Regions from separate parts of the Homo sapiens genome. Here region 2 is linked to region 1. The links come from fine-mapping of genetic effects on gene expression. Tissue or cell type: whole blood. Region 1 holds a variant in brackets; the other region holds the start of a gene. All regions are shown on one strand. Distances are from middle to middle.

What was found. PIP is the estimated chance that this variant, and not a neighbour inherited with it, causes the effect.
Region 2: COMMD10 starts here. The variant in region 1 is fine-mapped to the expression of COMMD10 in whole blood (INTERVAL, PIP 0.94).

The regions. Positions count from the first base shown.
Region 1 is chr5:116,221,455-116,229,454 of GRCh38, forward strand. All of the region lies in intron 5 of COMMD10 (COMM domain containing 10), which reads left to right. Among named protein-coding and RNA genes, the nearest start is that of MIR12130, 30 kb to the right of the region's middle. The variant A/ATT (reference allele first, on the strand shown) is at 3,900.
Region 2 is chr5:116,080,614-116,088,613 of GRCh38, forward strand. COMMD10 (COMM domain containing 10) reads left to right here and starts at 4,412. Exons shown (of 7, transcript NM_016144.4): 1 at 4,412-4,480; 2 at 6,884-6,974. The coding sequence starts at 4,440. RefSeq lists enhancers at 4,206-4,365, 4,659-4,953.

The DNA of each region.
Region 1 (8,000 bases):
TTGAATCTAAACACCAGTCCCTTAATCTTATTACTGAGGATACTCTTGGCTATGTAGTTACTCATGGTTACATTGCTAGTTAGTTACAGAACCCTGGTGAGAGCCTGTGTTTTCAAGATCTCTTAGAAATGCTGTGAAGAAAAGGTCTTAGGTTTAGGTCTTAGTAGTAATTATTTGGTTTGACTTTGGAAAAGTGTAGATACCTGCATCTCCTCACTGTGGGCTATGCACAGATGAAATGTAGCATTATTACGTTTTGAAAGGTGCAGGATAGCTTCTGTTTTTCAACATTATGCTTTAGTTGTTCTAGCCACCATTCTTTATTTAAATGAGTAGGAAGCCAAGAGCAAAGTAAAGATGGATTTTTGGAGTCCTTTGCTTATTTTCCCACATTTTTTCTTACCAGAGAACACATAACATAGACAGGTAGATAGGAAGGGAGGGAGGTAGATAGGCAGGCAGTTCAACCAGAAAAAAATCAAGCCTGTTTTAGCAGGTTGTGAAAAGATGAACTGAATCTGTCAATGTCCGCATCTTCTTTAGTTACCAGGAGTGGATGTGGGTAAGCCTTGGTGCAGCAGATAATACTGATAAGTGTATATGTTCCAAATAGAGATGTGGTCATAGGAGGAAAAAGAATGTTAATGCCATCTGGGATGTTAAGAAGTTAGGGAAGGACACAGAGCATAATTGAGATGAAATTGTAACTTCTTACTCTCTTCAGTGATAGTCAAATCTAATTTAAGTCTGTTACTCTATTCTCATGAAAACATTCTCAAGAGTTGAAGAAAATAAATAGTAAGGCAGTCTGTATGGACCTTAACAAAACTTAGTTTTGACTATTGGAATTAAATTTTAATATTTTAATTTGGAAATCTCATCCTGAAATCTCTTTTGGTAAAAACATGGAATCTTTTTAGTATGAATTAGAATTATTCTGGTCAACAATTATAGTTTCTGTACCCATTAGGGTATCAAAGTCTTATATTCAAATTATATTAAATTGACTCATTGACTCATCTAGTTCAGTGGGAATATGATTTTAGAAGTAGAATAAAGTCTACTTGTATTTGTAAAGTTGACACTATGTTTTATGAGGGAATTTAATGTTCTTTTCAGGAACATGAGGCTGGACAGAAAGATAATCTTACAAGAAATTATCTCAGTTTTTCATTTTGGCCTTTTGTTCACAAAAGAGCTAGAATTCAAAAGAAAACAACATTTAGCCTATTTATTTATTTGTTTATTATTTTTTGAGAGGGAGTCTTGCTCTGTTGCCCAGGCTGGAATGCAGTGGTGCCATCTCGGCTCACTGCAACCTCTGCCTCCCAGGTTTAAGCGATTCTCCTGCCTCAGCCTCCCAAGTAGCTGGGACTACAGTTACATGCCACCACGCCTGGCTAATTTTTTGTATTTTTGGTAGGGACAGGGTTTCACCATGTTGATCAGGCTTGTCTTGAACACCTGACCTTGTGATCCACCCACCTCAGCCTCCAAAGTGCTGGGATTACAAGTGTGAGCCACTGCGCTCAGCCGCCCTTTTTAATACTATGGTTATTTTAGTTGATATCTTCAGATTGCTCTTGATTGGAGTATATAAAATATGTCATAGATTGTGTTATTTTAATTTTACTTGTCTATGTTCTTATTTCTTTGAAGTTGCTATTTTTCACTATATTTTGCTGTCACCTATAAATTATAAATATTAGTCTTAACAGAAGTCAGATATTTTCTATATTGGATTTTTTTTTGAAAAAAAGGAGATAGGATAAAATGTAAGGAAATCAAATCTAGGAACTAATTTAGAAAAGTCAGAGGATTTTTATTTAGTATTGAGAAGTATAAGATAAGTTAAATGTATACACCAGAGAAAAAAAGTTCTTATTACAATGTAATATGTGGAACAAAAAAAAATAGTAAGGATATGGCTATCTATATTTTATTTTAATGTTTATTTAACAAATATTTACTCAGCTCCAAATTAGGTACTAGAAACTGTCTCAGACTCTGGGAATATATTTCCACACATCCTGGTCAATGAAACATTAAATTTCTAATTAGAAATTTTAGAAGTTCTAAGAAAGCAAAAAGCTCATGGTGCTTTTGGAACATAGTCCAGGGAGATTTAACCTAATCCAGAGAAGCTCGGGAAAAATTTGTGCCAGACTATAAGGTGAGACCGTAAGGTTGAGTCAGAGAGGGACAGAAGGGGTTTGGAGAGAATGTTATTGGAGTGTAGGAATAGTATGTTCAAAAACTCTGAAGCGACTATAATGTATTGTAAGATACCCTGAAAGAAGTTCATGATCGTAGGAGTGGAGGCAGTGAGAAGAGGTGAAGCCAGACTGGAATGGTTCAAAGGCAACACTTGAAATTACCTGATTAAAATAAGGCACTCAACATAGCCTTAAGAATGAAGGTTATTCCATTTGGTATTCTTTGCTGAACTGCTTAACAGTATTTTTATGTTTCCATGTGCTGAATTCATTTTATAAATTTTTTTAAAAGTAATGCATGTGTTTGGAGCAGCATTATAAGACCATGGAAATGGTTTTACTGTTTGTCTCTTTTACGTTTTTTAAGAACAAAGCTTCCATTTTCCACTTCCATCTCTTGGACTATTCATTTAACGGTGATCTTTCTGTTTCTTAATCCAGGTTCTAAGGATTCTGGGGTTGGTAGTTTAACTCTTAATCCTTTTAAAAAATTGAACCAATGTATCTTTTCAATGAGAAATAGTTCATAAATCTTGCTACTCAAATAAATCATGAGTCTATATGAGGACTTCAGTTGGGAATTCGTTTATTCCTGTTCACTAGAATTAGGAAACTCTATGTAGATAGGAGCCATCTCTGTGTTTACTTACTGTCTCTACAGTTCCCAGCCATTGCCTAGTATATTAATCCATTTTTGTTGGTATAAAGGAATATCTGAGACTGGGTAATTTACAAAGGAATGATATTTATTTTGGCTCATGTTTCTGCAGACTGTACAGGAAGTGTAGTGCTCTCATCTGCTTCTGGTAAGGCCTCAGGAAGCTTACAATCATGGTGGAAGGCAAAAGGGGAGTTGGCATATCACATGGTGAGAGGAGGGAACAAGGGTCCGGGGCCGCGGTGCCGCACTCTTTTAAACAACCAGATCTCATATGAACTCAGAGCGAGAACTCATTTATTGTGAGGACAGCACCAAGCCATTCATGAGGGATCTTCCCCCAAGCCCCAAACACCTCCCTCTAGGCCCACCTCCAGCATTAGACATCCTATTTCAACATGAGGTTTGGAGGGGACAAAACATTCAAACCGTATCACCCGGGATATTGTTGATGAAGTATTTGTTGATTGAATTAATACTAAATTTTGTTGGCATTACATTTTATTTTGACTTTAAATGCTGATGAGTATTTGATAGTTCATGGTTCTGTGATAACATTTAGGCTTGTAGTGAATAAAACATTACAATATTGTTTAAATCTTTTCTTTTACATTTAAATAAAAGATGGATAAGAATGTTACTTTAACATTTTATATAATATCCTTTAACAATCTGTAGGCTAATCTTTAGTTTATGGGGCTTCTAACCCATAATGCAGTTGTACTGATTCTTTTGCCATTTCCAATTTGTTGCTGTGACCATTTGGTGAATATTTTATTTCACTTATTATACTTTTTAGATCTAGAGTTTTCTGTTTTTGTTGTTTCTTTTTTTCTCTTGAGATTTATTCTGTGTTCACTCACTGATAGCATATTTTTCTTCAGTTCTTTGAATATATTTATAATAGCTTTTTTGAATTACTTTACTTGCTAAATTCAATGTCTGAGCCCAGTTAGAGTCATTTGTATTGAGTGTATTTTTTCTTAAGTAATTTCCTGAAGACTTTCCTGTTTGTTTTTTTGGGG[A/ATT]TTTTTTTTTTTTTTTTTGCATATGTAGAAATTTCTGGTTGAAAACTAGACATTGGGAAACATATGGTGAAATGACTCTGGGTTCTGTCATATTCTTTTGAGGACCTTGGTTTTTTGTTCTAGTAGGCAATTAACTTCCTTGGGTTGAAACCACAAACTGTCTCCTGTGAGGTATTCAGCTTACACCTTTCCTCTGCTGCTTTGTTAGCCTGAACACCTATAGGTCCCCCTTGTATATGCACAGTGTGGTAGCCCAAAGATTTTGGCAGATGCTCATCTTCTTTGTTGTTTCTTTGTGTCTCAGAATTTCCTCCTAATTGACAGTAGCCATGCCAGCTTTGGGCCCTATACTCTGACACATCAAGCCTGTCTAGATTCATCTTTCTACCACTCAAGCTGTAAATGATTGAAAAATGTTCTCAGTTAATAAAAGAATCACAGATTCTAAAATCTTGTTTTTTTTTTTTTCTCTTCCTGCTTTTTCACTAGGCTTCATAGGCCTCCCTTGCTCATGTGTAAATTTTGTTGTCAGCTAGGAATTTGTGTAGCTTGTGCTCTGAATTTGAGTCTCGTGCCTTCTGTGATTAGCTTGGTGCTAACATTTTTCCTTTAAATTTTCAGCTCTTTTTCCAGCTCTCCACTCCAAGTTCTAGCATCTTTAGCCAGTGCGATGCCATTTTTTTCTTCTCCTTTTTTGTAGCTGTAGCTATGGAGTTTGGTCAGTGCCTTGCAGCCAGTATGAACTCTCAATTCTTACCCCTTCTAGTTTTCAAAATAAAACTCTCTTCAGCCTTATGTCTGCATTTGAAAGTTTGAAGTATCTTCAAGTAGTTTGTTTGCTTTAATCTAGTATCTTATTATTGGTATCTCTGGGGTTTTGTATGACCACGTCAGTTTTTCAGCATGATCAGAAGTTAAACTACTTCATCCCTATTGATTTCAAATAGTACATTTAAAACAAGGGCTTCTAAACATTCAATGAAATTCAAATGATGTTTTAGACATTAACTTACACCTCAACTCTTCCAAATTTGTAAGTTCATGTTTGCACTTTGTACTTCCCTTTTTTTTTTTTTTTTGAGAACAGCAAATTATATTTCAGCTGATGGACTTTCCTCAGTTTCTGTTAATTACATGTGTGTCTCTATTTAGTAGTGCATTTAGAGTCACTATTTTTCACTGCTGCAGATATCTAGACATTTGATTGGAAAATAGTTCGGCATTGAACTTAGTAGCAATATTGGGGGACTTGGGACTAAAAAGCACCAATCAACTTAGAAAACCAAGCCCTGTAGTAACACAAGGGAAAAAAAAAATTCCTGAAGCCAATACCTTGGGAAATAAAGATAATAGAAATGAAATCATCTAAGTAGATGGCCTTAATATTTCTGGACATGTTCCATAACCCTCACAGGTAACAGTGGACTGGCATCTGGGAGACAGGACAAAACATAAATGTGGAATTTCAAGGATATTCCTATTTTCTGTTAAAGTTGCAGGAAGTATGAATTACTAAAGACTTTACATATGGTCAGATTGCTGAGTTTCAGTTTCAAATATTAAACACTCTTTTTCAGACGTTCTCCCATTTCACTCTCATTTCATATGAGTTCATATTATTTTATGCCCCAGGCCCGAAGTGTAGATAAGTTTACTGCTCCATTGTATACTGTTTATCTGATTCACTCTCCCCCTCTTTTGCCTTCTGGTGTTACAGAGTGGTAAGCAGGAAAGCAGGGTCTGTATCTATCTGTGCTATAGGTTCACTATCCTTGCCATAAATTAAGTTGATCGCTTAAAAAGTATCACTACTTTAGCACTAGATTTAGCTCGCTTTTAACAGAAATTTCATGGTGATCTTTTCTCATTTCAAGGCCCTTGAAATAAGGGCCTTGTTTTCTCGTTAATGGAGCATCTCATTCTCCTTCAACAGGGCTTGATTTCCTTTGAACAAACATTATTCTTACCAATAATTCTGATAACTTTCTGGTAATTTAATTGTGGTTATCCAGCCTCTTTATTCTCCATCAGTTCATTTTAGATATTCTTCTGATTTCCTTTTGTCTTTCACAAGATCTTTGAAATCCCATTTTCTCTACATCTTTAATATGACCTGAAAAAAATGTTTGTTCAATTTATACATCCTGCCACAAAATAGTACTCTGCTTCAAATTCCACATTTATGTTTTGTCTCCTCTGCCACAGGTAATAACCCGTCCACTATTACCTGTGGGGGTTATGGAACATGTCCAGAAATACTAAGGCTGCCCACTTAGGTGATTTTATTCTTATTATCTTCATTTTCCAAGGCATTGGCTTCAGGATGTTTTTTCTCCTTGTGTTTTCTGACTTGATTGGTGATGCCGAGCATTCACACAGCTTTTCAGTTTCTCAGCTTAGAAGCAAGGAATGTTAAAAAGTTACTATCAGTGCCTTTAATCATGAAAAAGACAAGTAGAAGGAATTAGTTCTCTCACCCAGGGACATCAGTGTGTATGTATACCAGTGGGAACCAGACATCGTGTCTAGGTAAAATCACTTATCACACTGCAGCTAATTTTTTCACCTGGTAATTTTAGCCAAACTAGGTCATGTTATAAATGTCAGCAAGGCAAAAGAGAGAATAAAATGTCATCAGAATAATGCACATACATTTCAATGGAGGTTAAAATCTTTTATAGGAAACAGGATTATGAGGTAGGAGATTTTTTTCATTGCAGCAGTGAATGTGAATACAGTTACTATGATTCTTAAGGTATTCACTTTGGCCTCATTCCTGCTTTCTTTAAATTAGAAAAAATATCTCAAGTTTGCTTACAGGTAAGAGTTTTAAGCCAAATAAATAACAGTTATTGTAGTGATTTGGTTGAAAAATAAACTTCTAATTCCCCTTTAAAAACTGAGAAGAAATGAAATATAGTGCAACGTCAGCCACAAAATCATTATTTTGATAGCTAACATCATTTGTATTCTAGGCTAGAATTTTAAAATTTAAAGTTCAAAAAATAAAATTTTATTCACATTGTTGATTTTGCCCAATGACACAAGCTATATGTTAATATTAAATTAATATAGACAAATTAAAGAAAGTACCACATTTATCACTTTCATATGTAGTAATTTTTATTTCAATAACCAGAATTGTAGGTTTCAAAAAATGTTTGAAAATTTGCTTTAATTAATAGTTTTGACAAAGAACCTTTAATAGACCGCTGCTTTTCTTTTCAAAGTTTCAGTTAAACCTGAAGAAATAATATGGTCCTGCTGTGATTTTTGAATGAATGCTTTTGTGGTTGCATAAATTGTGTTTTTTCATGAATATTAGGATTGTAAATGAAAATTAAGTCTGGATTCTGATCCTTTTCCTTTCAAGCTTATTAAAATAAGATCTTTTAGGATCACTGTGACTCTCTCCTTGTTAGTTTTATGTCATAACTTAGCCCTGATTATAAACAAACTTTAACTGTTTCTTAATTCAGTTTTTTCTTTTGTCATGAGCAAAGAAAAATTACTGAAATAAATAAGCATTGAGACATATTCTTGTAGTTGAAAACTTAGTGTGGGAATCATATTTTTGACTCCCAGCTCAGGATAGTATTAGGTAGGGTAGATTATTTTATCTTCTTGTAAAATAGTGTAAAATAAATATTTGCCTATAGACATTACAGTTTAGAGTAGAGAAGTTTCACATTAGAAAGATGCTGATTCGTCTTTACATTTAGGCATAAAAGAGGGAGTACATAGAGAGCATTTATAATTTATCTACTTTAAACATAATTATTTTTTATTATTTCCCTTTGCACTATTTTTAATCCTACTCATAGAATGAAAGATGAGGCATTGAACTTGTATCTAAGATTGATGATTTGTTTTGAGTCTGGGGCAGACAGACACAGTAATGGCTTAGTCTGATACAGGCATTTTGGGTTCAGTCTCTAGGGACAGGTATTCATATGTAATAAAACCACTTGAACTGGCATTGATTGCCATTGTTGATAATCCTAGCAGGATCAACATTGATTGAGTAAATAAAAAGATCGAATTTACCTTCTTCTGGCAAGGCAGGCAGAGAAGCAGGACAAAGCATAAAGACTTGACAGC
Region 2 (8,000 bases), 140 kb before region 1:
GACAGCCTCTCTAGATTCCTCCTTCCTGGGCAGGGCATCTCCAAAAGAAAGGCAGCAGCCCCAGTCAGGGGCTTATAGATAAAACCCCCATCTACCTGGGACAGAGCACCTGGGGGAGGGGTGGCTGTGGGTGCAGTTTCAGCTGACTTAAACATTCCTGCCTGCTGGCTCTGAAGAGAGAAGCGGATCTCCCAGCACAGCACTTGAGCTCTGCTAAGGGACAGACTGCCTCCTCAAGTGGGTCCCTGACCCCCATGCCTCCTGACTGGGAGACACCTCCCAGCAGCGGTGGACAGACACCTCATACAGGAGAGCTCCAGCTGGCATCTGGTGGGTACCCTCTGGGACAAAGCTTCCAGAGGAAGGGGCAGGCAGCAATCTTTGCTGTTATGCAGCCTCTGCTGGTGATACCCAGGCAAACAGCATCTGGAGTGGACCTACAGAAAACTCCAGCAGACCTGCAGAAGAGGGGCCTGACTGTTAGAAGGAAAACTAACAAACAAAAAACAATAGCATCAACATCAACAAAAAGGACACCCACATAAAAATCCCATCAGAAGGTCACCAACATCAAAGACCAAAGGTAGATAAATCCACGAAGATAAGAAAAAACCAGCGCAAAAAGGCTGAAAGTTCCAAAAACCAGAATGCGTCTTCTCATCCGAAGGATCACAACTCCTCACCAGCAAGGGAACAAAACTGGATGGAGAATGAGTTTGATGAATTGACAGAAGTAGGCTTCAGAAGGTGGGTAATAACAAACTCCTCTGAGCTAAAGGAGCATGTTCTACCCAATGCAAGGAAGCTAAGAACCTTGATAAAAGGTTACAGGAACTGCCAACTAGAATAACCAGTTTATAGAAGAACATAAATGACCTGATGGAGCTGAAAAACACAGCATGAGAACTTTGTGAAGCATACACAAGTATCAATAGCTGAATCAATCAAGCAGGAGAAAGGATATCAGAGATTGGAGATCAACTTAATGAAATAAAGCATGAAGACAAGATTAGAGAAAAAAGAATGAAAAGGAACGAAAAAAGCCTCCAAGAAATGTAGGACTATGTGAAAAGACCAAACGTATGCTTGATTGGTGTACCTGAAAGTGATGGGGAGAATGTAACCAAGCTGGAAAACACTCTTCAGGATATTATCCAGGAGAACTTCCCCAACCTAGCAAGGCAGGCCAACATTCAAATTCAGGAAATACAGAGAACACCTCAAAGATACTCCTCGAGAAGAACAACCCCAAGACACATAATCGTCAGATTCACCAACGTGGAAATGAAGGAAAAAATGTTAAGGGCAGCCAGAGAGAAAGGTCAGGTTACCCACAAAGGGAAGCCCATCAGACTAACAGCGGATCTCTCTGCAGAAACCCTACAAACCAGAAGAGAGTGGGGGCCAATATTCAACATTCTTAAAGAAACGAATTTTCAACCCAGAATTTCTTATCTAGCCACACTAAGCTTCATAAGCGAAGGAGAAATAAAATCCTTTACAGACAAACAAATGCTGAGGGATTTTGTCACCACCAGCCTGCCTTACAAGAGCTCCTGAAGGAAGCACTAAATATGGAAAGGAAAAATCAGTACCAGCCATTGCAAAAACAGACCAAAATGTAAAGACCATTGACACTATGAAGAAACTACATCAACTAATGGGCAAAATAGCCAGCTAGTATCATATGACAGGATCAAATTCACACATAATATTAACCTTAAACGTAAATGGGCTAAATGCGCCAATTAAAATACACAGACTGGCAAATTGGATAAAGAATCAAGACCCATTGGTGTGCTGTATTCAGGAGACCCATCTTGTGTGCAAAGAAACACATAGGCTCAAAATAAAGGGATGGAGAAATATTTACCAAGCAAATGGGAAGCAAAAAGAAGCCGGGGTTGCAATCCTAGTTTCTAGCAAAACAGACTTTAAACCAACAAAGATCAAAAAAGACAAAGAAGGGCATTACATAATGGTAAAGGGATCAATGCAACAAGAAGAGCTAACTATCCTAAATATATATGCACCCAATATAGGAGCACCCAGATTCTAAAGCAAGTTCTTAGAGACCTACGAAGAGACTTAAGACTCCCACACAATAATAGCAGACAACTAAAAGGACTTTTCATGGACATAGATGTCTATATTCCAGAGAATGCAGAAATATCTTGGGTGAGGTTCTCATTTGAGGTGTGAAACTATTCACAGCATCACGCCTTTATAGAAACATGGTAATAAGAAGTAATCAGCCCATCATTGAAAATGAAGAGCATTAGAGTGAGTCGCCTCTGTGTCCACTGGAGACTTGCTTTTGTGAACACCTAAGAGGTCTGGGTTTTGTTTTCTAAGGAGGGTAGAATGTTTCTTTTACATACGTACCACATTATTTAAATCTCATTAAGATCCAAGGGAGCAGACATTATTCTCATCCCCATTACAGATTGGGAATGAGAAACTTGTTGAGGTTAAGTACTTTGTCCAAGGTTACATGGATTTGGGATTTGAGCCATCTTGATGCTCTTTTGCTCAAAATTCTGGCTATATATTTTTAAGGCAATCAGAGGGTGAACTTCATTAGGGATTTGAAACAGTTTTAGTTGGTTAGTGGTTCTACTTCAGGTAAGGAATCAAGACAAAAGGGAAATGATTCAAAGAATGAGGGAACTGGGACCCTTTTAAGTTGCAGATGAGGTCATCTGTGTTTGGATCAGAGACCTATAATTTATGTAGATTCACATACATCTTTTTCAGATATGCATACATTGGGGACTGTAGAGTGTTGTGGAACTAAATGTATTTGTATGTGTTCAACACACTGTATAATTGACTCAATTATCCATGTGGAGATTATTCAGATTTAATGTGCAATCTGGTTTCTCCTTTCAGTTAGGTTGTTCTTGGGCTGCTCCAGGAACTCCAACTAATTTAAATAATAATTTAAGTAAAACATAATTAGGAAGGAAAATTAAATTCAATTTTTTGGCAGCTCTTGAATATTCTACTGCTGAAACGTAACTAATCCATCCACTATCTTTTAATTCACCAATGCCTTTTTAGTACCACAGGATTTTACTGCTTTCTATAGATTATTGCAGTAGTTTCCAGGTAGCTCTCCTGCTTACCTCTTTCCATTTCAATCATCATTCTGCTGACAGCAACCTTCAAAAATCCAACTCCCACTGCAAAATTTCTTTGGTTCAAAACATTTAATGGATAGAAAAAACATTTAATGCTTACCCATTTCTCACCAGATTAAGTGCACATGCCACAACCAGTCATTAAAGGCTTTTTCTAGTCTAAATTCCTGTTCTTCAAACGTCAAACCGCCCTTCTACTCTACTGACCTGAAACACACAGCCTCACCCTCCACATCTCTGCAGACCCACCGCATTTGCCACCTGCCCTAGGGAGCTTTTCCTGATCTTACCTCGGATGCCTTTCACTGCTCCCACATCTGAATTCCTTTAACTCACTCCATGTTTTTCTCAAAGGCAGACCAAGGTATTTATGCAAACATGGTGTCTCCCTAGTCTTGGGTGAGGTCTTTGACATCACTCACTGCAGCGATTCATCTCCCCTACTCTGCACTGTCAGACTCTAAAGAAGGGTGCAACAAATACTTGTCCATTTAGACTGCCGGCAAACCCTGAGGGCAGGAATTTTGGCCTTTTGTATCTCCAGTGCCTAGAACAGTGCTTGGTACACAGTAGGCACTCATTCATTGAACGTTGCTGAAGGAATTGAACGTACATACTACAAGCCCTGCAGATGCAGATACAGGAGGGGTTGACGGCACAGTGCTTAGGGTGGAACTGGAGGCACCACCTCTCCTGAGGGGTGATGCGCCGCTTCCTGGGCAGGCTCGGGGGAGCTCGCTCAAATGCCTGCCTCTCTGTAGCCCAAACGCTGGAAAAAAAAATACTCACAAATCACCTATCCAAGTATGTACACACAGGCTCACTTAAACCCGCCCTATTAAAAAAATATACACACGCACACACCATTTATCCAAGTATGTATACACGGGCTTGCTTAAACCTGCCCTATTAAAAATAATAATGTATATATTTATGCACGAACATACACACATATATCTATACAGGTCTGTACATAGACTTGCTTAAACCTGCCCTATTAAATACAGACACACACCCCTATCCAGGTATGTACATACATATATAATATATAAATATAAAGACATATATATGCACAGACTTAACTCCAACACGATTGGAGTGTCGGGAGGGCAACTGGGCTGCCCTCTCCGCCCTCCAGGACTGCGGGACAAGTCTCCCGGCGCCCGGGTCGCAGGAGACCCGGAGCCCTAAAACGGCCCCTGCGCGGCTTGGGCCTTCCGGCTTTCCGTCCGCCGCGGCCGCCATTGGCTGGGTTCGGCGCAGCTAACAGACGGCGGCAGTGCGAGAAAGCCGAAGATGGCGGTCCCCGCGGCGCTGATCCTACGGGAGAGCCCCAGGTAGCTGATCCGTTAAGCTCTTGCGGTAGCCGCGCCCAGGAAGGCCCAGATCGGGCTCGCACAAGGCTGTCCTTGCTGCCTGCCGCCTGGGCGCCGCGGCGGGCCCGGTTGAGTGGGGTGGGGTGGGGTGGGCTGCCGAGGTTGCGACGCTGCGTCTGCGGAGTGCGTGGGGCCGTGTAGCGCCTCTACAGTCACGGTGGTCCACCTGTGGGGCTCACAGTGCGCCTGGCAGCTGAGGTCTGTACGGAAGCGTGTGGTCTGCAAGCGTGGGGTCTGCGTCACTGTTCGCGGAGTTTGGTATCAGAAGTTCCCGGGTGCTGCCTTCAGTGCTGCCGAATCACGTGGAACGGTATTCCGTTTCCGATTTCAGTTCCGGTTCAGACACTCTGGTGGGAAAGGCTCACGCTGCTGCTGGAGGGTCTTTAATAGCCAACATGTGTTAATACCCCTTTTAAATCAGTATCGAATAGGGGACCGAATTTTTGGTTGGTAGAAGAATCTAGCCTGGCTTTGGTAGCATTTGCTTTTATTTGCATTTTAAACAGATTTTTAGTTAATTTCTACTTATGGTAGATAAAGTTGGTTGTCCATGGTAGTGATATAAAGCTCCCCTTTAACATTATTTAAGTAAAAAAAGACTCAATTTGTGAAAAAATAAGCAATAGTGCAGGTAGCGTGTGGATACAGAAAAAGTACTGAAGTATATAGGCAAAATAGTGTTCGGAAGTAATTTCTTTGTGCTTGGATTGGGTAGAAATCTTTCAGAAGAAAAGAGTTATTTTAAAGTTTTTCCTTCTTTCTGGATTCCTTTTGTTACCAGTGGAGGGTGTCCAGGTTCTTGGCGTCTTGAACAAAGAACTGGAGAAGACGCACAAAGAAAGCGAGGAAAGAATGAAGAAGACATTTATTGAAAATGAAACTACCCTCCACAGTGTGGGAGCTGCTTGAGCATAGGGGCTGAAGGGCCCCTACAGAATTTTTGGGAATTTAAATACCCTCTAGAGGATTCCATTGGTTACTTGGTGTACTCCCTATGTAAATGAAGAGGATGAAGTAAAGTTACAAAGTCATTTTCTCCGCCTATGCCATATGGAGAGGACATTTCTTGTCATAGCTGAAGTGGGAATCAGCTTTATGTTCCCAGCCTCCTGACCCTATTTTCCTGCCTCACTTTGGTTCTGATCGCCAGTTTCTTTCCTCATACCAGTGTCTTGGGGAACACCGCTACATCAGTAAACTGTATCCAATATGGTGCAGTATAGAATTGTTCTCATCACATCATTTAAAGTTGATTATTACAGGAAAGGTGCTGTGGCTCATGCCTGTAATTCCAGCACTTTGGGAGGCTGAGGCGGGCTAATCTCTCTCTCTTTTTTTTCCCTGAGAGGGCGTTTCCCTCTTGTTGCGCAGGCTGGAGTGCAATGGCGCCATCTCGGCTCACTGCAGCCTCCGCCTCCTGTGTTCAAGCGATTCTCCTCCCTGAGCCTCCTGAGTAGCTGGGATTACAGGCACCCGCCACCACGCCCAGCTAATTTTTTGTATTTTTAGTAAAGATGGGGTTTCACCATGTTGGCTAGGCTGGTCTGGAACTCCTGGCTTCGGGTGATCTGTCCTCCCTGGCCTTGCAAAGTGCTGGGATTATAGGGGTGAGCCACTGCAGGACTGATTGAGCTCAGGAGTTCAAGACCAGCCTGGGCAACAGGGCAAAACTCTGTCTCTACAAAAAATACAAAAATTAGCCAGCGCTGTGGCCCGCGCATGTAGTTCTAGCTACTTGGGAGGCTGAGGCACAAGGATTCTTAGAACCCAGGAGGCAGAGGCTGTAGTGAGCTGAGATCGTGCCACTGCACTCCAGCCTGGGTGACAGAGTAAGACCCTATCTCAAAATTGATTACTGTTGTAATAATAAATTTGATTTTACAGTTGAAACAGGGTTTTAAAATAACTGTGTGCTTAGTGACCCCAGATGATTTTGTACATAGTATTTGAAAAGTTATTTGCCTTGCAGTATTCTTTTATGTTTTTGGTGTAATTGCCATAATTGCTATTCCTCTCCTCCCACCCCTTTCAGAGTTCCATTTTTGGGTTAAGTGTTTATATAAACGCTCTACTAAATTAAGGCTCTTCCCTGCGCAGTACAAGGTTTCCCTAGTAGTTTGGTTTGCCCAAAAGAAAGAGAAAATTTGCCAAATGGACCTTTTCAGCAGAAGTAATTTTGGGGGCATCTTTTTGGAAATGTACCCGTTGCCCTGCCTTTTTTGCTGGCTGTCATCTGTTTTTATTTCACTCAGATTTACCATATAGCATTCAGAGTTGTTGGAATGAAAACTTATAGACAACTATAGAAAGTGCAGTTCAACTTGGAAAACTCATTTCAAAACTCTGTTTTATAATTTTGTTTAGCATGAAGAAAGCAGTGTCACTGATAAATGCAATAGATACAGGAAGATTTCCACGGTTGCTCACTCGGATTCTTCAAAAACTTCACCTGAAGGTTTGTATTTGTGTGTTTCCATGCCTTGTAATCTTCCTTCTGATTTAATTGAAAGTCTGATTATTTGGAGAACTTTTTGCAAAGCATAGTGTTCTCCAATATGTTCTTAGAGACACTGGTTCTGTGGAAGATTTGGTAATGTTTCATGGTCAGAAGTTTGAGAAACTCTGTCTTCAATAAAGTTAAATGTTTTAAATTATGGAACTTTTCAGAGTATTTTATATGCTAGTGTTTGTGGTATGTATTCGAGGGTGATTATGGCAGGTAACATTTTCCAAATGTGTTTGACCTTGGATCTGTTTTATTATGGTATATATTTTGGGACTAAAGTTCTAAAAATATACTTTAGGGAAAAATTCTGATGTCTTGGTTTTATTTTTCCGCTTAAAAATAATTCTGTGGTATTTTCTATCAACTGGTATTTAATCTTTCACTTAATTTTGTTTCTCTTTCACTTTTATTTTAAGGATATGGTTGTTTTGGACATGTGGATGCTTTGTAATTCTCTACCTGGCCCAATCCAAGTTAATTTAGTTAATTTCTTTATCAGGTTATAAAAATTTGATTCCATCTCATATTTATGGAGCACCCACTAACTGCTCTGTGCAGTGCCATGTATCACCATCCATTGAGAACCAAGACTCTTACTCTGTCATCTTGTTTTTCTTGGCCAAGAGCCAGCCTCAAAACTGTGCCTTTCCCCTTTGAAGTGTCTTTCAAATCCAAGTTCTCACAATTCTAGGTCAAATCTTTAGTACCTCTTTTTTAGATGACAATAGTTACCTTCAAGCTGGTTTCCCTGCCTATAGTCTTCTTGCTTTCTACTGCTTCATAATACTATGTAAATTACTTTCTAAATTTTTTTTCCTGAAACAAAGATGTATTATATTTTTTACAGTGTTCAAAGCCATCAGTGACTGTCCATTGCCCTATGGAGAAAAGTTAGAAATCCTTAACATTGCGTACAAGTCCCATTGTAGTATGGCTGCAGTCTACATTCTCCTCATTTTGTAAGTGCTGCAGTTA